Homo sapiens: one gene and its partners. The protein of the gene in region 2 binds, or shares a complex with, the protein of the main gene of each other region. Each region holds a gene or a part of one and is shown on either strand. Other genes may lie near its edges. The genes, in order: CPSF2, CPSF4 and CPSF3.

Region 1 (7,347 bases), on a different chromosome or scaffold from region 2:
GTTCCACCTCCTTACAAATTCCCACATCTAGTCTAGACTAGAACAGCTCTGTCAACAGACATATAATGCGTGCCACAAATGTACTTTTTAATTTCTTCATGGCCACATGGAAAAGTGAAAAAGAAACGGGTGAATTTTAATGAATTTTATTTAACCCAATAGAACCAAAATATTATTTCAACATGTAATCATGTTGAATATTTTACATTTTCATATTAAATCTTCAAAATCCACTGTGTATTTTATATTTACAGCACATTTCAAATAGACTAACGACATCTGAAGTGCTCAATAGCTACATGTGGCTAGTGACTACCATAACAGTGCAGATCTAGACTCCAGACCATAAAAACCAATGCTTTACACTATAGAGCATCATGTTGTCACCCCTAAAGTGCAGGTTGGCACCATCCTATGTTTATGTACATGTCTCAGACTAAGTTTTAATAGTATTGCCAACCATTTACTCTCCCAGACTAAAAACTCAAGTCACCTTCTTACCATTAACTTAGCAGTCAGCAGGTGAATCCCATTTGACATTTACTTAGTGTCTCTCTGACCTCCTTTATGTCCTGCCTCCATGGAGGCCCTCATTGCCTTACCTGAATGATTGCCCATTTCCTTTCATCTAGTTTTTCTGTTCCCAGTTGATCCTCCATATAGCTGTCAGAGACCATCCTAAAAAAACAAATATCCTCCTGCTCACTCCTTGCACAAAATATCCACTGGATTCCTGGTAACTACTGAAAAAAATCTAAACTCCCTATTGGAAACCAAGATCCTTCACAAGCTGATCTTAACCTACCTCTTGCTTCACCAATCACTCGTGCACTAAATGCTCAGGCAGGTTGATTATCCCACTCTCCCTAAGTATGCTAAAGCTTCTCAAAGCTCTGTATTCCTGTACTGAATCCCGAAATTACCTTCTCCTTTTGAGCTCAGCAAATTCCTTTTGATGCTATATGACCCAGCTCACATATTTACTCCTTTATAAAGCCTTTTTGTTGCCCTAGGCAAAGTTAGTTATTTTGTTATAAAGGAGGCACATAAAGTATTTGTTGAATGGATGTTCAATGTATAGAGGAGTAAAAGTGATCATCTTTGTATATCCAATACCAACTTCAGTGGTCAAGGCAGCATAAATGGGTACTGCAAGAAGGAATGAAGCCTCATCATATCATAAATTCCTTCAGAGCACTGGTTTTGACAGATACTACTTCATCGCAAATATCTCACAGTTACTTGCCCTCTTAATAATAATCGTGCATGTTGCCGGGCGCAGTGGCTTGCGCCTTTAATCTCAACACTTTGGGAGGCCGAGGAGGGCAGATCACTTGAGCTCAGGAGTTCCAGACCAGCCTGGGCAATATGACAAAACCCCTTCTCTACTAAAAACACAAAAAAGTAGCCGGGCGCGGTGGCTGCGCTGGTGACCCCAGCTACTTGGGAGGCTGAGGTGGGAGGATTACTTGAGCCCAGGAGGCGGAAGTTGCAGTGAGCTGAGATGGCACCACTGCACTCCAGCCTGGGTGGACAGAGCGAGACCCGGTCTCAAATAATAAATCGGCCAGGCGCGGTGGCTCACGCCTGTAATCCCAGAACTTTGGGAGGCCGAGGCAGGCGGATAATCCTGGCCAACAAGGTGAAACCCTGTCTCTACTAAAGCTACAAAAATAGGTGGGCGTGGTGGTGCGCGCCTGTAGTCCCAGCTACTCGGGAGTCTGAGGCAGGAGAATCACTTGAACCCGGGAGGCAGAGGTTGCAGTGAGCCGAGAATCGTGCCACTGCACTCCAGCCTGGGCGACAGAGCGAGATTCCTTCTCAAAAATAAAAAATAATTACCGTGCATGTTGATGACAACTAAGGTGAACTAAGCAAAATCCAAGGGAAAACAGAGGAGTTTGGGTTAGCCCTGGAGCTCACTGAGTGGGGAAGGCTCTTCTCGGTCAGTTGAGGGAGAGCCCCAGTTTCATACTGGGGTTGCAAGGCCGGGCATGGTGGCTCACGCCTGGAATCCCAGCACAGGCCAAAATGGGAGGATCTCTTGAGCCCAGGAGTTCGACACCGGCCTGGGCAACATAGTGAAACCCCGTCTTTATTAAAAAAAAAAAAAAAGAAAGAAAAAAGAAAGGGGTTAAAGGGGTTGTAAAATTAAAAATTAGGGGATGGGTATAAATGATAGCTCAGGTTCGCCTGGTCACAGGAAGCCAGACTTGCCGGGGTTCAATCTGACCTCTTCTTTTCTAAAGAGCACGTAAAATAGTACGAAGTCAAAAAAGAATTAGAACTTCGCAGTGATAGTGGAAGCGCTGGAGGGCGATGGCGGGAGGGCGCGAAGGCCCAAGACCCTTTTAGTACAGTGTGGTACAAACAACCGAAAGGTCTCTGGAGTCGAAGAACTAAAAGGACGCCTAAGCGGTGTCCAGAGCTTAGCAACCTCGTGGTCTCTCAACCCAAAACGACGGGAAGAGCCCGAGCAGGGGAGGCTAAGAACGCCGTAGCCACGAAGCCAAGGAGCTAAAGCTGGCGTCGGTTTAACTCTTCCAGCGCCAAGAGATGAAAGGGGAAGCAGAGGGAAGCAGAAAGGAGGGAAGAAGATCCCGGGAGGGAACCGTACGGGCTGCCGCAAAACAGCTGGGAGCTTGAAACCCATGGAGAAGTCACTTCTCTTTCCCTCGCTGACCACTTCTGCCGGGAACGACCGGGACAGTCGCAGCCGAAGCGGCGGGGGCGAGTCCTCGGGGGAGACCGGGTCGGAGTCGGGGCCCCGTGCTCCCGGAGGGCCAATGACGCCGCCTTCCCCAGCCCGAGGCTCGCTCCTTTCTCCCGCCCTCACTTGCCTCGTCAGGCCTCCCCCAACGCCGTCCACAGCCCTTCCCAACCCCTAGGCGAATCCAGGTTCAAGACGTAGAAAAGCCGATGCTGGGTCAGCAGCGCCAGGGACTACCGGCCGGCAGAAGCCCCACAGTGGCAGCCGCCATTTTGGAGCTGGAGACTAGCGGCGGAGACGAGGAGGAACCAGGGCGAGACCATCTCCGGGGGGTGGGCACGGTGCTGTCGGAAGGCGACGGCGGTCACGCCTGCACGCCTCGTCTGTCTGGAGCGAAATTTTATTCAGAAATTATTGGTAATGTTTGGAAGCTAAAAAAAAAAAAAATGAGAGGAGTCAACCCTGAGGAGGAAAAAGTAGTATGATTTGCTGGCGTCACCCCTCTGCTCCGTGCGGGCGCGGCGAATGGCAGGTCCCGAGGTCGCAGCTTCCACTGGCGCGGGTTGAGTTCCCTGTTGCCCTTGGTCTCGGGGTCGCTGTAGGCGCTGAGGCTGCAGGTGGGTTTGGGGAGCCCGGGGGGCCGCCGCGACGAGGATCACGGCGACGGTGGCGGGGAGGGTTCTAGGCAAGCCCTCGGTGCTGTGCATGTGTGGAGGGGTGGTCTGGGCTTCCCCGGGGCTTCCGAACGAAGGTGACGGGAAAGGAAAATGGGGTTTTCTTCGGGTGGAGGATGGGATTTCCGGGCCGGAGCTTTTGGAAAGGGTTTTCTGAGGCTGTCATAACAGGAAAACGTCCGTAGAGATGTGACCCAGTGACCGCCCGCTAACCGGACTGGAGAGAAGACCGGCCCGGATCCCACGCCTGGCCTGAAGCAGGGAAGACGCTGCCTCCCCTCCGCGAGCAGCTTACATTCGTCCAAGTTCCAGCCTTCTGTCTTCTCGCTAACCTCGCTCTCTTCCAAATCGCAAATCCTCTTGAGCCGACACCGTTGCGCCTAAATGATGTGCTTACCCTTTTACTTTGCTTTTTTATTTTTGAGACAGAGATTCACTCTTGTCACCCAGGCTGGAGTGCAATGGTGCAATCTCGGCTCACTCCAACCTCCGCCTCCCGGGTTCAAGCGATTCTCCCGTCTCAGCAGCCCAAGTAGCTGGGATTACAGGCGCCCGCCACCACACCCGGCTAATTTTTTGTATATTTAGTAGAGACGAGGGTTTCACTATGTTGGCCAGGCTGGTCTCGAACTCCTGATCTCGTGATCCACCCGCCTCAGCATCCCAAAGTGCTGGGATTACAGGCGTGAGCCACTGCACCTGGCCCACCTTGCCTTTTAAAAGACAAAAGTATGGCCAGGCTTAGTGGCTCACGCCTGTAATCCCAACACTTTGGAAGGCCGAGGTGGCCGGATCAAGAGGTCAGGAGTTTGAGACCAGCCCGGCCAACAGTGAAACCCCATCTCTACTTAAAAATACAAAAATTAGCCGGGCGTGGTGGCACCTGCCTATAGTCCCAGCTACTCGGAAGGCTGAGGCAAGAAAATCACTTGAACGGCCGGGCGCGGTGGCTCACGCCTGTAATCCCAGCACTTTGGGAGGCCTAGGCGGGCGGACCACCTGAGGTTGGGAATTCAAGACCAGCCTGACCAACATGGAGAAACCTCGTCTCTACCAAAAATACAAAATTAGCTGGGCATGGTGGCGCATACCTGTAATCCCAGCTACTTGGGAGGCTGAGGTAGGAGAATCCCTTGAATCCGAGAGGCAGAGGTTGCTGTGAGCCAAGATTGCGCCATTGCACTCCGGCCTAGGCAACAAGAGCGAAACTTCGTCTCAAAATAAAAAAAAAAAAAGGAAAGAAAAAAGTATGAATTGTATAAGCATGCCAGTGTAAGAGGAGAGGCAGAAATTCAGTCTACATAGTCCTAGCACAGCTTAGTGCTAAGCACTTTTGTTGGCAATAATGTATTGTCTTTCTAGGATGTTGTCATATGTCTTCTTAGTCATTGTACATGATTTATTAGTTTAGTCCAAACGCACACAGGTGTATTTTGAATTCATCTGTATGCACGAATTTTTACAGAAAATTGGCAATCCAACTATGTTTTTATTGAATTGTGCAATTTATTTTCCACATGATGTCTATTACAGGTTCAGTATCCCTGATCAGAATGTTGGAAATCCAAAATGCCCCCATATGTGAAACTTGGGGCCACAAGTTTGAGACCAGCCTGGGCAACATAGCAAGATCTTGTCTCTACAAAAAAAAATGTTTAAAGAATTTTTTTAAATTAGCACCCGTAGCTCCAGCTTCTCAGAAGATTGAGGTGGGAAGATCACTTGAGCTCAGGAGTTCAAGACTGCAGTGGACTATTATAACTCCACTGCACTCCATCCTAGGTGACAGAGCGAGACTATTTAAAAAAAAAAAAAAGTTTCATATAAGATTACCTTCAGGCTATGTGTATAAGGTATATATAAAACACAAATGAATTTTATGTTTTAATTCGGTCCTATCCCCAAGATAGCTCATTATGTGCATGCAAATATTTCAAAATCAAAAAATCGAAAACACTTCGGGTCCCAAGCATTTCGGATAAGGAAAAACCTATAGTTCTATTCCTCCTCATCTACCTTCTGGAAACTCAGCATTTAAAAGCTTTTAAGTACCATAAACATCAATTCAGGAAGGGGTTTCTTAGGCATGGGCTATAATAGCAGCCAGAGCTGTAGAGTGAAGCTGAATTTGAACTCCAGCTCTGTACTTAATAGCTATTTGGATTAAGCTGTTTTCTTATCTGTAAAATGTAAATAATAGTTATTTCACATTACGTATAGAAATAGATGATGGCTCTGGTACCTAGTAACCTAGTAGTCTTTTTTTTTTTTTTGAGACAGCATCACGCTCTGTCGTCCAGGCTAGAGTACAGTGGTGTGATCTCAGGTCATTGCAACCTCCGTCTCTTGGGCTCAAGCAATCCTCCCACCTCAGCCTCCGAAGTAGCTGGGACTACAGGCATATACTACCACACCCAGCTAATTTTTTGATTTTTTGTAGAGACAGGGTTTTGCCATGTTAACCAGGCTAGTCTCAAGCTCCTAGGCTCAAGCGATCCATCCGCCTTAGTCTCCCAAAGTGCTGTGGTTACAGGCATGAGCCACCTAGTAGTCACTCTATAAAAGTAAATTTTCTTCTCCCTTTGCCTTTTTTTTTCTTTCTTTTTTTTCTGAGACAGAGACTCGCTGTATCCCCCAGGCTGGAGTGTAGTGGCGTCATCTCAGCTCACTGCAACCTCTGCCTCCCGAGTTCAAGCAATTCTCCTGCCTCAGCCTCCTGAGTAACTGGGACTACAGGCATGTGCCACTACGCCCACCTAATTTTTGTATTTTTAGTAGAGATGGAGTTTCACCATGTTGGCCAGGCTGGTCTCGAACTCCTGACCTTGTTGTCGTCCACCCGCCTCAGCCTCCCAAAGTGCTGGGATTACAGGCGTGAGCCACTACACCCGGCCCCTTTACCTTTTTTAGAGTAATTTATATTCATATCTACAGTGACATTATTGAATATAGTTTTCTTTTTTCTCTCATATCTTTTAATTTCCTTTCTAAATTTAGTTTTCAGTAATTACAGCTTTACCTAAAGAATTCCATTTCTGGCAAAATTGTATTAAATTTGTTTTTGCATTGTGAGAGGTTCTAAATATGTTTTACACAAGTAAAAGTCCTAAATGAGAGCCAGGTGCAGTGGTGTATGCCTGTAGTCCCAGCTACTTGGGAGGCTGAGGCAGGAGGAATGCTTGAGCCCGGGAGTTGAGAGCTGTAGTGCCTGTGAATAGCCACTGCCCTCCAGCCTGGGCAACATAGCAAGACCTTGTCTCTTTTACAAAAAAAAGTTCCAAAACAACATGAGGAGGGTGCAAACAATCAGCTGTTGCAGGTAGAATTTTTTTACATACCATCTCTGTTTCTCTGCTCTGTATCGTATCACATCACTATTGAAGCTAGTAGTAAAATGTAATAAATAGACCCAGTGTGGTGTAATTTTATATTAATCATTGTCCCGTATGTAATCTTCATCAATTAGATTTTAAAGTATTATACTACATTCTGATGCCAGGCAAACAAAGAGGCGTATTAGGCTTTTAACATCTATTACATCTATGTCTATCATCTTCTTGTTTCAGATGCAATTTATTTATTTTATTGAGATGGAGTCTTGCTCTGTCGCCCAGGCTGAAGTACAGTGGCACGATCTTGGCTCACTGCAACCTCCGCCTCCTGGGTTCAAGCAATTCTCCTGCCTCAGCCTCTCCAGTAGCTGGGATAACAGACGCGCACCACCACACCCGGCTAATTTTTGTGCTTTTAGTAGAAATGGGGTTTTGCCATGTTGGCCAGGCTGGTCTCGAACTCCTAATCTCAAGTGATCTGCCCACCTCAGCATCCCAAAGTGCTAGGATTACAGGCATGAACCACCGCACCTGGCCCAGATGCAATTTAAAAGCTATTTCAAAAAAAAAACAAAGCAGTTGTATTTCTGATAATTTTTTTTTCTTTTAGCTATCATGGTGAACTTACTTC
Region 2 (7,160 bases):
GGATTACAGGCACGTGCCACCATGTCTGACTAATTTTTGCATTTTTAGTAGAGATGGGGTTTCACCATATTGGCCAGGCTGGTCTTGAACTCCTGATGTCAAGTGATCCACCCGCCTCAGCCTCCCAAAGTGCTAGGATTACAGACGTGAGTCACCGCACCTGGCCACTTTCAGACTTTTTGAGATGCAAATGGAGTGACCTCCCTGTGACAGCCATAAGTTCTATAACCTCAGCTGTGTCCTAGCAAAATCTGCTTGCTTCCAAGAAGCCAAGGAATCTTTTGTGATTTAGCAAGGGGAGGCATGTTAAGTGGGCTTCAGAGATGCTGTCATTGGTTTTTCAGCAATTCTAAAATGGTTACTTGTAGAGGAAACTGTTTCTGATGCCAAGGTCAGTTTAGTCTGGCAGCTGGGGCTGGTGAATTCCTGGACTCATCAGAACAGCTGGTCCCTGGAGCCCACTGAATTCCAGCACACTCCGACTGTGGGAATGAAAGGCTGTGCTTTTTTTTTCTTTTCTTTTCTTTTTTATTAACAAGCAACATAATCGGCCGGGCGTTGTGGCTCACACCTGTAATCCCAGCACTTTGGGAGGCCGAGGCGGGCGGATCACGAGGTCAGGAGATCGAGACCATCCTGGCTAACACGGTGAAACCCCGTCTCTACTAAAAATACAAAAAATTAGCTGGGCAAGGTGGCGGGTGCCTGTAGTCCCAGCTACTCGGGAGGCTGAGGCAGGAGAATGGTGTGAACCCCGGTGGGGCAGAGCCTGCAGTGAGCCGAGATCACACCACTGCACTCCAGCCTGGGCAACAGCGAGACTCCGTCTCAAAAAAAAAAAAAAAAAAAACAAAAAACAAGCAATATAATCAAAAACAAAAACACAACAACCTTAAAGCTGAAACAGCAATAAGTCAAACTGCCGCGGCAGTTCACAGTTTTACCTGGGGTACCTGCTCCCTCATTGCAAGGCAAGACTGCATTTAGTATATATGTGACCAAGAAGAATGAGAGAAGTGGAAAACACTGGAGAACAGAAAGTATCAAGAACCTTTCATCAGGCAATGCCAAAGCGCTCTGCTCTTTTCCTCTTCTTTGCCTCTGTATCCTCTGTGGTTCCAGTTCCAGCTGAACTTGTGACAATCCCAAATCGCTCCTTCCTCTTTTTCAGTTTCTTATCATCTTCAGACTTTCTGGAAATTGAAGAGACATTCAAACCAAATCTTTGAGCTCTTTCCTTCGGCTTATCCAAGTTAACCATAGGTGTGTTCAGATGACAGACTTTTGTTGGAACTGAAGAAATCCCAAACCTAGCTGCCTGAGCAGCTTTCTTACTCTCCAAGCTCACAGGTACACTGAATTGTTCGGCCCTCTTCTGCATTCTCTCAGCCTGTGGTATTTCAGATGTAATTTTCACCACTTTCTTCTCTGCTGCCACATCAACAGTTTTTTTCAGGGGGTTCTTCCTATTTGACAAGGGGTTTTTTTCTTCTTCTGTTTCATCTCCTAGTACATCTTCATTTGCCTCCTCTTCAGCATGTTCTTCAAGATATGCCTGGAGTCTGTGGATAAGATCTTGCTTTATTCCCTTGGTCTCCAAACCACAAGAAGACATTCTTGCTTTAGTTTAGCAAGCTTCAGCTTATGGAGCTCCACCATCTCAGTTACCATCTTGTTACCCCTCCGGGTGTGCTCTTTTAATAATTGTATGTGGGGTGGGGTGCGGTGGCTCAATCCTAGCACTTTGGGAAGCCAAGGCAGGCGGATCACGAGGTCAGGAGTTCGAGACCAGCCTGTAATAATTGTATGTGGGCCAGGTGTGGTGGCTCACGTCTATAATCCCAGCACTTTGGGAGGCCAAGGTAGGTGGATCACTTGAAGCCAGTAGTTTGGGACCAGCCTGGCCAACATGGCAAAACCCTATCTCTACTAAAAATACAAAAAAATTGGGCAGGCATGATGGTACACCTATAATTCCAGCTACTCAGGAAGCTGAGGCAGGAGAATCTCTTGAACCAAGGAGGCAGAGGTTACGGTGAGCCAAGATCGCACCACCACACTCTAGCCTGGGCGACAGAGCGAGACTCTGTCTCAAAAAAATAGAAAAAAAAAATTGTGTACGGATGTTGCATATTAAAAGCAGTCCTCTGTTTCTGCACTTAATGTGCTTCCCCCTGGACTAGCATCTCAGAGGCACTGCCTCTTCCTTGAAGCCTGACCCTCCTCAGAGGCCCTGATTGTCTGTACGTCTGTGAGATCATTCCTTCCCTCTGCCTCATGTTAAGGTATCTGTGAATTCGCCCTCCTGGAGGAAGGTGTGAGCTAGGGGCCGTTAATTTATTCCTGTGTGTCAGGCACTTTGGCTCAACGCCTGTAATCCCAGCACTTTGGGAGGCCGAGGTGGGTGGATCACCTGAAGTCAAGAGTTCGAGACCAGCCTGGCCAACATGGTGAAACCCCGTCTCTACTAAAAATACAAAAATTAGCCAAGCGTGGTGGCAGGCACCTGTAATCCCAGCTACTTGGGAGGCTGAGGCAAGAGAATTGCTTGAACCTGGGAGGCAGAGATTGCAGTGAGCCAAGATCGCGTCATTGCACTCCAGCCCAGGCAACTAGAGCGAAACCCCATCTCAAAAAAAAAAAAATTATTTCTGTGATCTCGTACTCCAGCCTTCCTTTCCCCACCCACTCTTAACTCCTTGAAAGGATCTTATATACAGGAGGCTCTCAAAGCACTGGGTAATGACTGTTCTCAATGTATGTGTCTCATTTTGTAGGGCGTGACTAACTTAAGCAGCTTCTTCCTTGCTTGGTTGGGCTTTGCAAATTTTTGCTACTTTATTTCCTGTACCCTGAACCCTTGGTGGGTCAGAGGTCAGAAGGGTTCCCTCCCACTGTCTTCAGACATTGTCAATAGCAAATTGCACCTCTTTGATTCCTCTCCTTTTCTCTCCTTTCTACAGAGTCGGGCGCTGCTGTCTGTGAATTCTTTTTGAAAGCTGCCTGCGGCAAAGGTAAGAAACTCCGGGCTCCCTGATGTGCCTCCGGAGGCGCCCTCCCACCTCCTTCTCCCCGGCAGACTTGGAGGCCGCCAGGTCTCTGGCTTACATTGCTTTCTACAGACTAACGATCTCTGTAGATAAAACTGGTTTGGACAGGCTAGGACCCTGATGGGGTGTTCCACCTGAAACCTAAACGCAGGACTGAACCTGGCTCTAAGGCTGCCTTATCACTTCGCATTCCCCGTGGCCACAAGCTGACCTGTGACATGGAGAGAAGCCCCCAGCATTGAGACACTCAGGAACTTTCTCAATGTCACAGAGTTAATAAGCGGCAGAGCCCAGTGTCTGAACCCAGGTCTTTCTCATTCCATAGTTTCCACTGGCTCATGGTTTTCTGTGGCCTCCCATCGAAACACCCCATGATAACCCATCTTGCGGGGTCTTGTTCTCGATAACCAGCCCTCAACACAGACTACACAAAACTACTGAGGTGCGAGAATCCCTTGAACCAGGGAGTCAGAGGTTGCAGTGAGCCGAGATCGTGCCATTGCACTCCAGCCTGGCAACAGAGCAAGACTCTATCTCAAAAAAAAAAAAAATCTTGCTTTATTTGCTCGTCTCCAAACCACGAGCAAGACATTCATTCTTACTTTAGTTCAGCAAGCTTCAGCTTATGGAGCTCCACTGTCTTGGTCGCCATCTTGTTACCCCTCTGGCTGTGCTCTTTTAATAATTGTATGTGGGCCGGGCTAATCCATCAGAAGTATCACTAGGGGTCAGGCGTGGTGGCTTACGCCTGTAATCCCAGCACTTTGGGAGGCCGAGGTGGATGGATCACCTGAGGTCAGGAGTTTGAGACCAGCCTGGCCAACATGGTGAAACATCGTCTCTACTAAAAATTCAAAAATTAGCTGGGCATGGTGACGCCCGTCTGTAATCCCAGCTACTGGGGAGGCTGAGGCAGGAGAATCACTTGAACCTGTTAGGCAGAGGTTGTAGTGAGCCAAGATCGCACCACTGCACTCCAGCCTAGGTAACAGAGTGAGACTCTGTCTTAACAAAACAAAACAAAAAAAAAAGAAAGAAAGAAGTATCACTAGGTACAACCTAAACTTTCCATGGTCTGGGCATTTTTCTCCCTGTAGGAAAATTTATTTAGGAGACTTAAATATTAATCAGAAGCTTGAAAAAGAGAGCAGAGAATCAGAGCAAAGGGCTGGTTTTAATGAATGGTTTTGGTGAGTTTTGCTTCTATAACGTAGTCATTTACCACTGAGGTAGGAGACTTTCTGGCAGATCAGCCAGGCCACCTTCACACTGTCCAGTCAGAACGTCATTACCTCCACTGAGTTTCTGGTCTCATTCCCATGTCTTTGCTCAGTAATTCTGCCCTTCTGACCAGCCACCTTCTGTTAGCACAGCCATCCCTAACACAGGGCATTCTGTCTCTCTGTTGACTAATACAGTAGCCACTAGTCACATGTGGCAGTTCAAATTTAAGTAAAATCAAATCACATTTAAAACAAAATTCTCAGACACACTAGTCATATTTCAAGTGCTCAGTAGTCACATGGGGCTAGCAGCTGCCATATTGGACAGCAGAAGTGTACAGCGGCCTCATTCTGGTCGGACCTCCATGGTGGTCTTGCCAGGCCACCCGTTAGAAGTCTCACACATCCCCAGAGGCTGGCTCTGTCCCATCAGGTCCTGTCCCAGAAGGGACACGTCCCTCCATGTGTATACATCACATTTCCTCAATTCTGAAATTGGTCTTTCCTTTTTTTTTTTTTTTAAAAAAGAGGCAGCATCTTACTCTGTCACCCAGGCTGGAGTGCAGTGGCACAGTCATAGCTGACTGCAAGCTTGACCTCCTGGGCCCAAGTGATCCTCCCACCTCAGCCTCCTCAGTAGCCAGGACTACAGGTGTACACCACCATACCCAGCTTTTTTTTTTTTTTTTTTTTTTTTTTTTTTTTTTTTTAACGGAGTTTTGCTCTTGTTGCCCAGGCTGGAGTGCAGTGGTGTCATCTTGGTTCACTGCAACTTCTGCCTCCTGGGTTCAAGCAATTCTCCTGCCTCAGCCTCCTGAGTAGCTGGGATTACAGGTGCACACCACCACGCCCAGCTAATTTTTTGTATTTTTAGTAGAGACAGGGTTTCATTATGTTGGCCAGGCTGGTCTCGAACTCCTGACCTCAGGTGATGCACCTGCCTTGGCCTCCCAAACTACTGCGATTGCAGGTGTGAGCCACTGTGCCTGGTCCCCAAGCTTGCTTGGCTGGCTTACTTACTTACTTACTTATTTATTTATGTAGTGAAGACAAGATCTCAGGCTGATCTCGAACTTCTTGGCTCAAGTGATTCTCCTGTCTTGGCCTTCCAAAGTGCTAGGATCATAGATTTGAGCTCCTACACCCGGCCAAGTTCCTTTCTTTTTTTTTTTCTTTTTTTTTTTTTTGAGACAGAGTTTTGTTCTTGTCATCCAGGCTGGAGTGCAATGGCGTGATCTCCGGTCACTGCAACCTCCGCCTCCTGGGTTCAAGCGATTCTCCAGCCTCAGCCTCCCAAGTAGCTGGGATTACAGGCACCCACCCGCAAGCCGGGCTAATTTTTTTTGTACTTTTAGTAGAGATGGGGTTTCACCATGTCAGCCAGGCTGGTCTCGAACTCCTGACCTCGTGATCTACCCACCTCAGCCTCCCAGCACCTCCCCCCTTTTAATTCCTCCATCTTACAGTAATATCTGTGAGATCATGAGTAACTTTTTTTTTTTTTTTTTTGAAAAGGTGTCTTGCTCTGTTGCCCAGGCTGGTGTGCAGTGGCGCGATCTCTGCTCACTGCAAGCTCCGCCTCCCGGGTTCACGCTGTTGTCCTGCCTCAGCCTCCCGAGTAGCTGGGACTATAGGCGCCAGCCACCATGCGCGGCTAATTTTTTGTATTTTTAGAAGAGACAGGATTTCACCGTGACAGCCAGGATGGTCTCCGTGCCAGCCAGGATGGTCTCGATCTCCTGACCTTGTGATCCGCCCACCTCGGCCTTCCAAAGTGCTGGGATTACCAGCGTGATCCACTGCGCCCGGCCATGAGTAACTATTAAAATGTAAAATGTCTGTCAGTGTAGTACCTCAAATCATGTTGCCTTCTGTGAGGGGGACCTCTGCCCCTTTCCAGGACGTGATGCCTTCAGGTGGCTCCAGGAGTTAGGAAGTGAAGGTACCTCAGCTTCTTCAGGCCGTGTCCCCCAGGCTCAGGGTGGCCTCTCTGCTGACACCCTGTCCCTATCTTGCCGGCAGGGGGCATGTGTCCGTTTCGCCACATCAGTGGTGAGAAGACAGTTGTGTGCAAACACTGGCTGCGTGGCCTATGCAAGAAAGGGGACCAGTGTGAGTTCCTGCATGAGTATGACATGACCAAGATGCCCGAGTGCTACTTCTACTCCAAGTTCGGTAAGGCGCCTGGAGCCCTGGAGGCTCTGCTGAGAACCAGGGTGCAGAGGGGTCCGCTGGCTGCTCAGTGCCCACACTGTCTCTGCCTGCTTTTCCCATCTTTCTATTCTCAGAGGAGAACTCTGGCAGAACCTGCCAGCCTCAGCCAGCTTTTAGGGGACAGTGTGGCTATTTTCTGCTCATCTCTTTTTTTTTTTTTTTTTTTTTAAAGACATAGGGTCTCGCTATGTTTCACATACTGGTCTTGAACTCCTGGGCTCGAGTGATCTGCCTGCCTCAGCCTCCCAAAGTGCTGGGATTACAGGCGTGAGCCACCACGCCTGGCCCCGCGCATCACTTTGGAGTGCTTCAGTGTTTGGAGCTCTTTCAATCACTCGGATTTGAGGCTAACGAGGGTGACCCGGAAGCAGCGAGTTGTGCAGCTGGCTGCATTATGTCCGTGGTTGGTTTCTGTCCACGTCCACCTTCTCCCTGAAACCCACTTCTCCCTCCAGCGTGGGCATTGCCTCTCAGGCCCGAGCTGGTTCCTTCTCTCCAGGAGCCATGATCCTGGTGACATCTCAGCCATCCTAAATAGCCCTTCAAAATAACAGCCTCAGATGTGTCTTCTGGTAGCAACAAACTTGCCTTGAGCCCTGCTTAGAGAATGCGTGGCCTCAGCTGTCCTGAGTGGCCTGCGTGGAGAAGCGGGAGCCCGGGTGGAGTCAGTGGG
Region 3 (7,160 bases), on a different chromosome or scaffold from region 2:
TTTTTGTGAGATGGAGTCTTGCTCTGTCGCCCAGGCTGGAGGGTAGCAGTGGTGTGATCTCAGCTCACTGCAGCCTCTACCTCCTGAGTTCAAGCGATTCTCCTGCCTGAGCCTCCCGAGTAGCTGGCACTATAGGTACACGCCACTATGCCTGGCTAATTTTTTGTATTTTTAGTAGAGACGGGGTTTTACCATGTTGGTCAGGCTGGTCTCGAACTCTTGACACCCACCTTGGCCTCCCAAAGTGCTGGGATTACAGGCTTGAGCCACTGTGCCTGGCCTACCTCATATATTGATATATTTTTGGAGACAGGGTCTCACTCTGTTGCGCAGGCTGGAGTCCAGTGATGTGATCATGGCTCACTGCAGCCTCAACCTCCAGGGATCAAGCAATCCTCCTGCCTCAGCCTCCCACGTAGCTGGGACTACAGGCACACGCCACCATGCCCGGCTAATATTTGTATTTTTTGTAGAGACACGGTCTCACATATTGCCCAAGGTGGTCTTGAACTCCTGGGCTCAAGTGATCTGCCCATCTTGGCCTCCCAAAATGCTAGGATTATAGGCGTGAGCCACTGTACCTATCCTAATAAAATATTTCAGAACCAAATGGAACATTTTATTACTTTATATATTTCTTTATTTAAAGAGAGTCTTGCTCTGTTGCCCAGGTTGGAGTGCAGTGGCATAATCTTGGCTCACCGTGGCCTCAATCTCCCAGGCTTATACAATCCTCCCACCTTAGCCACCCAGGTAGCTGGGACTACAGGCATGAGCCACCATGCTTGGCTAGTTTTATTTTATTCTTGTAGAGACAAGGTCTCACTATGTTGTCTAGGCTGGTCTCAAACTTCTGGGCAGTCTTTCCACCTCAGCCTTGCAGAGTGGTACGATTACAGGCATGAGCCACTGTGCTCAGCCCCAAATGGAATATTTTAGAGGGTATTTACAACAACAGCATTAGCTACCAGTCCCTTTCCATTCACTTTTGTAACTTCTATCTTACAAGACAGATTGTTCTTTTTTTTTTGAGACAGTCTTACTCTGCCACCCAGGCTGGAGTGCAGTGTCGTGATCTTGGCTCACTGCAGCCTCTGCCTCGAGGGTTCAAGGGATTCTCATGCCTCAGCCTCCAAGTAGCTGGGATACAGGTGTGAACCACCATGCCTACCTAATTTTTATACTTTTTTTTTTTTTTTTTTTTGAGACCGAGTCTCGCTCCGTCGCCCAGGCTAGAGTCTAGTGGCGTGATCTCGGCTCACTGCAAGCTCCGCCTCCCAGGTTCACGCCATTCTCCTGCCTCGGCCTCCCGAGTAGCTGGGACTACAGGCACCTGCCACCACACCCGTCTAATTTTTTTGTATTTTTAGTAGAGACGGGGTTTCACCGTGTTAGCCAGGATGGTCTCCATCTCCTGACCTCGTGATCTGCTCGCCTTGGCCTCCCAAAATGCTGGGATTACAGGCATGAGCCACCGTGCCCTGCCTAATTTTTATACTTTTAGTAGAGATGGGGTTTCACTATGTTGGCCAGGCTGGTCTCGAACTCCTGGCCTCAAGTGATCCACCCACATCGGCCTCCCAAAGTGCTGGGACTGCAGCCCGGCCAAGATAGATTGTTCTTAGCCTCTCACATGTGGTAGATGGCTTGTGGCTGGGCATAGCCAGCACCAGCACGTGGCAGGGGCTTACTGCTTGCTGGGGAAGGGCCTGGGCCTGGCTGCCTGAACAGAATCCTGGTGCTGCTGCTTATTTAAGCTGTGTAACCTTGACCAAGTGATTTCACACCTCAGTTGTCTCATCTGCAGAACAGCTGTCGGTCATGAAGATTAAGCAAGTCAGTTCATATAAAACACATATACAGTGTCCGGCACATGGTAAATAATCAATGTTAGCTAGTATTCATTACTACCACCAACACTACTAGTATTGCAATTTTATCCTGCAGCTATACTTTTGCTGGAGCTGGTTATCACAAGAAAATGAGCATGAAGTTCAACCCAGGAACTTAAACTGTCAGCAGAAGTAGAACCAGGAGAGTGACAGGATGAAATGGGGCTGAGGATGAGGTGGTGACACCACACAAAAGAGCAATTCGGCTTTTCCTCCCTGGCTTGGAAATCTGGGGGAGTGTTCATGCACACAGACAATAAGAAACACCTGGGAGGAGCCTACTCTGTGACTAAACCCTACACACTGTGATGCTATAGACAGGAGAGTGATTTTTCTTGACCAAATAATCTGCTCATTAAGGGCCAGTGGCAAATACCTGTGAGGCCTATCATGCTAGAAAAAACTCAAAAACGAACAAAAGACTGCATGAAAAGGTGCTCAACATCATTAGTCATTAGAGAAATGAAAATAAAAACCACAACGAGATACCACTTCACATTTGCTGTAAAGTGACACAACCCGAGTGTCCACCCACAGGTGAATGGATAAACAACATGTGGTCTACATATAACGGACCATGACTTCGGCATGAAGTGCTGATACATGCCACAACATGATGAACCTTGAAAACATCATAGGCATTATGATTCCTCTTATATGAAATACCTAGAATAGTCAAATTCATAGAAACAGAAAGTAGATTTGAGATTACCAGGGTTGGCGGAAGGGAATGGGGAGTTACTGTGTAACGGTACAGAGTTTCTGCTTGGAGTGATGAAAAGCTGTGAAAATAGACAGTGGTGATGGTTGTACAACACTGTGAATATAATTAATGCCACTGGTTTGTACACTTAAAAATGGTTAAAACTGCAAATTTTATGTTAGATATTTTACCACAGTAAAACGTATTTAAAAAACAACAAGCAAGGCCAGGTGCAGTGGCTCATGCCTGTAATCCTAGCACTTTGGGAGGCCGAGGCGGGCAGATCACCTGAGGTCAGGAGTTTGAGAACAGCCTGGCCAACATGGTGAAAACCTGTCTCTACTACAAATACAAAAATTAGCTGGGCGTGGTGGCACGTGCCTGTAATCCCAGCTACCCGGAAGGCTGAGGCAGGAGAATTGCTTTAACCCAGGAGGCAGAAGCTGCAGTGAGCTGAGATTGGCGCCACTGCACTCCAGCCTAGGCAACAGAGCAAGACTTCATCCAAACAAACAAACAAACAAACAAACCAAAAAACACCCCAAACAACAAGCAAACAAACAAAACTAACAAAAGGCCATTTCTCCTGCTTTCCAATACATTTGGAAAGGGCACGTCATCTATTTTCTATGGACACATGCTTCATTAGTGTTCTTCTAATTAAAAATACACACTTTTTTCAGCTTACCCCTCCTTTCCAATTCCATCAAAATATCTAACTTATTTTTAATAAGTTACACGATACTTAAAAATATAAGTAAGTCGGCCGGGTGCAGTGGCTCGCGCCTGTAATCCCAGCACTTTGGGAGGCCGAGGCGGGTGTATCATGAAGTCAGGAGTTCAAGACCAGCCCGGCCAAGACGGTGAAACCCCATCTCTACTAAAAATACAAAAATTAGCCGGGTGTGGTGGTGGGCACCTGTAATCCCAGTTACTCAGGAGGCTGAAGCAGAGAGCTGCTTGAACCCGGGAGGCGGAGTTGCAGTCAGCCTGGGTGACAGAGCAAGACTCCGCCTCAAAAAAAAAAAAAATATATATATATATATATAATATATATATTAAGCATTTACTATGTGCCAGGCACCATATTAAGTGCTTTAGATATGTTCTTTCACTTCATCCTTACAATAACCTTATGAGCTATTATTCCTATTTACAAATGAGGTACAGAGAGGTTAAGTAACTTGCCAAGGGTTACATAGTAAGTAAGAGATGGAGCTGGCATTCCAAATGAGCAGTCATACTCCAAGCCTGGCTCTTAAATTATTGGAGAGGCAGCAGAAAATAACAGAAAAACATTAGGATTGGGGTTGGTAGGTCTGAGTCAGTCAGTTCTGGAGAAAGGGGGCAGCTTGCTGAAATCAAAGGGGAGTTGTAAAGGCCAAATCCGAGTGCATGTGAAAGGCTCTGCTCAGGGGGTGTCGCATTAGTAGGTGATGATGCCTGCTTTGTGAACTGCCTGCTGCACAGTTTCCTGGGTATGCACTTTTTTTCCCTTTAATACAATAAATGAAATTCATAGACTAACCACATGAGGCGGTTTCAAAGCACGAATAAATTCACTGGTTTGCTGGTAATCCGTGTGAGCTGAGAAAGAAATGTAATCAACAGACATTTTCAGTGGTAACTTCTGTCCAGACATAGTAGTGATTTCTTCAGGTTCAGACATGATGTGCTGTGGAAAATAAAGAAAAATAACAAAACAAACTACCCAGTTATAATCGTAAAGGTACATTTTCATTTTTTTCATGCAGTCATAAATTCATGTTAAATTTAGGACCTTACGCACAAAATCATTCTAATATAACTGACTCAGTAAATATCAAATACTCATGTTCTCAATCAAGCAAACATTTAATGAGAAAAGTAAACAAATTAACTAAAACTCATCTATCTGGAGTGCTGGCAGTGAGAATCATAACTCTTATGCTTAGAAAGACAAACCTGTATTCCCAACTATTCTTGTGCTCTCCAAAGTCATTTCCTAGATATGTGGATATATTTCTATTCTGAAAATCTTTGTTTTTTCAAATAGGGTCTCACTTTGTCACCCAGGCTGAAATGCAGTGTGCGATCTCAGCTCACTGCAGCCTCGACCTCCTGGGTTCAAGCAAGCCTCCTGCCTCAGTCCCCCAACTAGCTAGGACTACAGGCACGTGCCACCACACCTGGCTAATTTTTGTATTTTTTGTAGAGATGGGATTTCTCCATGTTGCCCAAGCTGGTCCCCAACTCCTGAGCTCAAGTGATCCACCTGCTGTGGCCTCCTGAAGTGCTAGGATTACAGATGTGAGGCACTGTGCCAGGCCTGGAAATTTTTTTTTTCTTTTTTTTTTGGAGATGGAGTCTTGCTCCGTCACCCAGATTGGAGTGCAGTGGCGCCAATCTCGGCTGACTGCAACCTCCGCCTCCAGTTTCAAGCAATTCTCCCTGCCTCAGCCTCCCGAGTAGCTGGGATTACAGGCATACGCCACCACGCCCAGCTAATTTTTTGTATTTTTAGTAGAGACGGGGTTTCGCCATGTTGGCCAGGCTGGTCTCGAACTCCTGACCTCAGGTGATCCGCCCGCCTTGGCCTCCCAAAGTACTGGGATTACAGGTGTGAGCCACTGCACCCAGCCTGGAAATCTATTTTAAATACAACATTGTCACTAAAGAACTTTATAGAATAAGGTAAAGTAATAAAGATTATCAAAGAATCATATCATATTTTTAAAAATAAAATAGAGGATGAGAATGTGATGCCTGGATGCTCAGAAACTGCCTCCCAAGTTCTGCATATATTTTCTACAATTTCTACATCCCTAAGAGCTGAAAATCAATGTTTCATAATAGTAGAAAGTGGTCAACCCAAACACATTCTACAGCTTTTTAAGATCATATGTATTAGTCAACCTCTTCTTCATGAGAGGACGGAGAGTATTCACGTGTTTGTCTCAAACAGGTTCCTGTCCATTCTTCTCTACTTGCAACCAGATGAGCATTTCTCAAACTTTAATGTGTATATCAATCACCTGGGACCTCATTATGCCATTCAGTGTCTGCATAATTCTACATCCTACGCACATCTCTAGCTACCTATTCCCGTCCTCATTTTTAAAAATCAAAACTTGTATTATTTGAAGAACTACTTCAGTGCAAAAACCTGTGAGGACCGTGCCACCTCCGTGATTCTGAATAGGAATAACACAACAGCCTATGACTGTAACTGACCTTGGCAAGTGTCCCTTCTACACAGTATCCCGCTATAATGACACCATTCCTCTTATCAGTACACCAGCTTTCAAATAATTCTCTGGATAAGCCACTTTGCATCATGCCTGGGGAGGCCATTACAACACTGGGACCAATGTCATCAAAATGATCCATGCTCTAAGAGAGAAAACAGAATGGGAAAAGTATGTTAGCTACCAGCAGCTGACAAAGCATTCTTTCTTTTTAAAGAATAACAAAAGGCTAAGAGATTAATCACATCACTGAAAGAGCCTTCACAAGATCTGTAAACATTTTAAGTTCAGTTGCCAAATTCCTAAACAGTTTAGGCTAGGAATGGTAGAAAAACCAAGTAATAAAAAGCGGTAAGTTCACCCCGATCTTCAAAACCTTCTGTTGGTAGCTAGAGGGCCATCAGAACCATCAGGACCATCTTCAGCGCCTAGCAGGCAGGCAGAAAAGTAAAAGGAAGAGTCAAATGGGTCTTGATCTACCCAAGACACAACTCTGAAAAAATATTCCCAAAGACTCACAATAGCTTTGCATGCTCCATGCATGTTTTGAGCTGGCCTGGAAATCAAAAGGTTTAACATTGTTCTAGGGAGAACTTGTCTACAATCCTTAAGCAGTTAACTTAAAATAAATACTTTATGAACAAAGCCTATTTACAACTGGAAGTCCACTTTTAAATTATTTCGGATATCAATTATTTTATTATGATTCAAGCATCGAGTTAAACAGTATTTTTTAAATTAAATAAAATCAGATTTTATTGAATGCTTCCAGAAAAGTATATAAAAATTTTCATATATAGAATTTGCAGCACTAATCAAAAAGATGATTTGGTTTGAGTGAGAAGAGAAACTTAAATACATAATACAAAATATTTTTCTCCTCAGAACTTTTTATGCCTACGGCAAAAGAGATGAGTATTATAAATACTGAGAACACATGGCTACTTGGGGCAAGTGGCAAAATCTGTTGAAGCAGAAAAAGAATGTCAGCTGCTGAAGTTTTGATTTTCTGCAGAAAAACGACACCTGTTGAGAAGCGGTAAGACTCCAGCAAGAGGAATTCAGCCAGAGTCACTGACAAGCACTGCCTACGATTTTTATTTTATTTTGATAGAGACAGGGTCTCACTATCTTGCCCAGGCCGGTCTCAAACTCCTGAGTTCTAGTGATCCTCCTGCCTTAGACTCCCAAAGTGCTAAATTACAGCTGTGAGCCATCACTCACGGCCTCGTACCTCCTACTACTAATGACTGATTTGGTTTTATCCATCCTTGTCTTTCTTCCACAAGCACTCACCTTGAGGTTACTAATGTGTTTGAAAACAAAGGGATTATTGAT

What was found.
Region 1: CPSF4 (region 2) and CPSF2 share a complex: the UniProt entries of both Homo sapiens proteins name them as parts of the cleavage and polyadenylation specificity factor (CPSF) complex.
Region 3: CPSF4 (region 2) and CPSF3 share a complex: the UniProt entries of both Homo sapiens proteins name them as parts of the cleavage and polyadenylation specificity factor (CPSF) complex.

What each region holds. Positions count from the first base shown.
Region 1 is NC_000014.9:92,117,622-92,124,968, reverse strand, and holds the start of CPSF2 (cleavage and polyadenylation specificity factor subunit 2), read right to left. Parts: upstream 3,001-7,347; 5' UTR 2,841-3,000; exon of another isoform or gene 2,618-2,840; intron 1-2,617. Other genes in the region: NDUFB1 (NADH dehydrogenase [ubiquinone] 1 beta subcomplex subunit 1), read left to right, coding at 7,332-7,347. UniProt on the Homo sapiens protein: Component of the cleavage and polyadenylation specificity factor (CPSF) complex that play a key role in pre-mRNA 3'-end formation, recognizing the AAUAAA signal sequence and interacting with poly(A) polymerase and other factors to bring about cleavage and poly(A) addition.
Region 2 is NC_000007.14:99,441,826-99,448,985, forward strand, and holds part of CPSF4 (cleavage and polyadenylation specificity factor subunit 4), read left to right. Parts: intron 1-509; exon of another isoform or gene 510-549; intron 550-871; exon of another isoform or gene 872-1,684; intron 1,685-2,963; coding exon 2,964-3,014; intron 3,015-6,295; coding exon 6,296-6,448; intron 6,449-7,160. UniProt on the Homo sapiens protein: Component of the cleavage and polyadenylation specificity factor (CPSF) complex that play a key role in pre-mRNA 3'-end formation, recognizing the AAUAAA signal sequence and interacting with poly(A) polymerase and other factors to bring about cleavage and poly(A) addition.
Region 3 is NC_000002.12:9,440,625-9,447,784, reverse strand, and holds part of CPSF3 (cleavage and polyadenylation specificity factor subunit 3), read right to left. Parts: coding exon 7,119-7,160; intron 5,968-7,118; coding exon 5,809-5,967; intron 4,271-5,808; coding exon 4,124-4,270; intron 1-4,123. UniProt on the Homo sapiens protein: Component of the cleavage and polyadenylation specificity factor (CPSF) complex that plays a key role in pre-mRNA 3'-end formation, recognizing the AAUAAA signal sequence and interacting with poly(A) polymerase and other factors to bring about cleavage and poly(A) addition.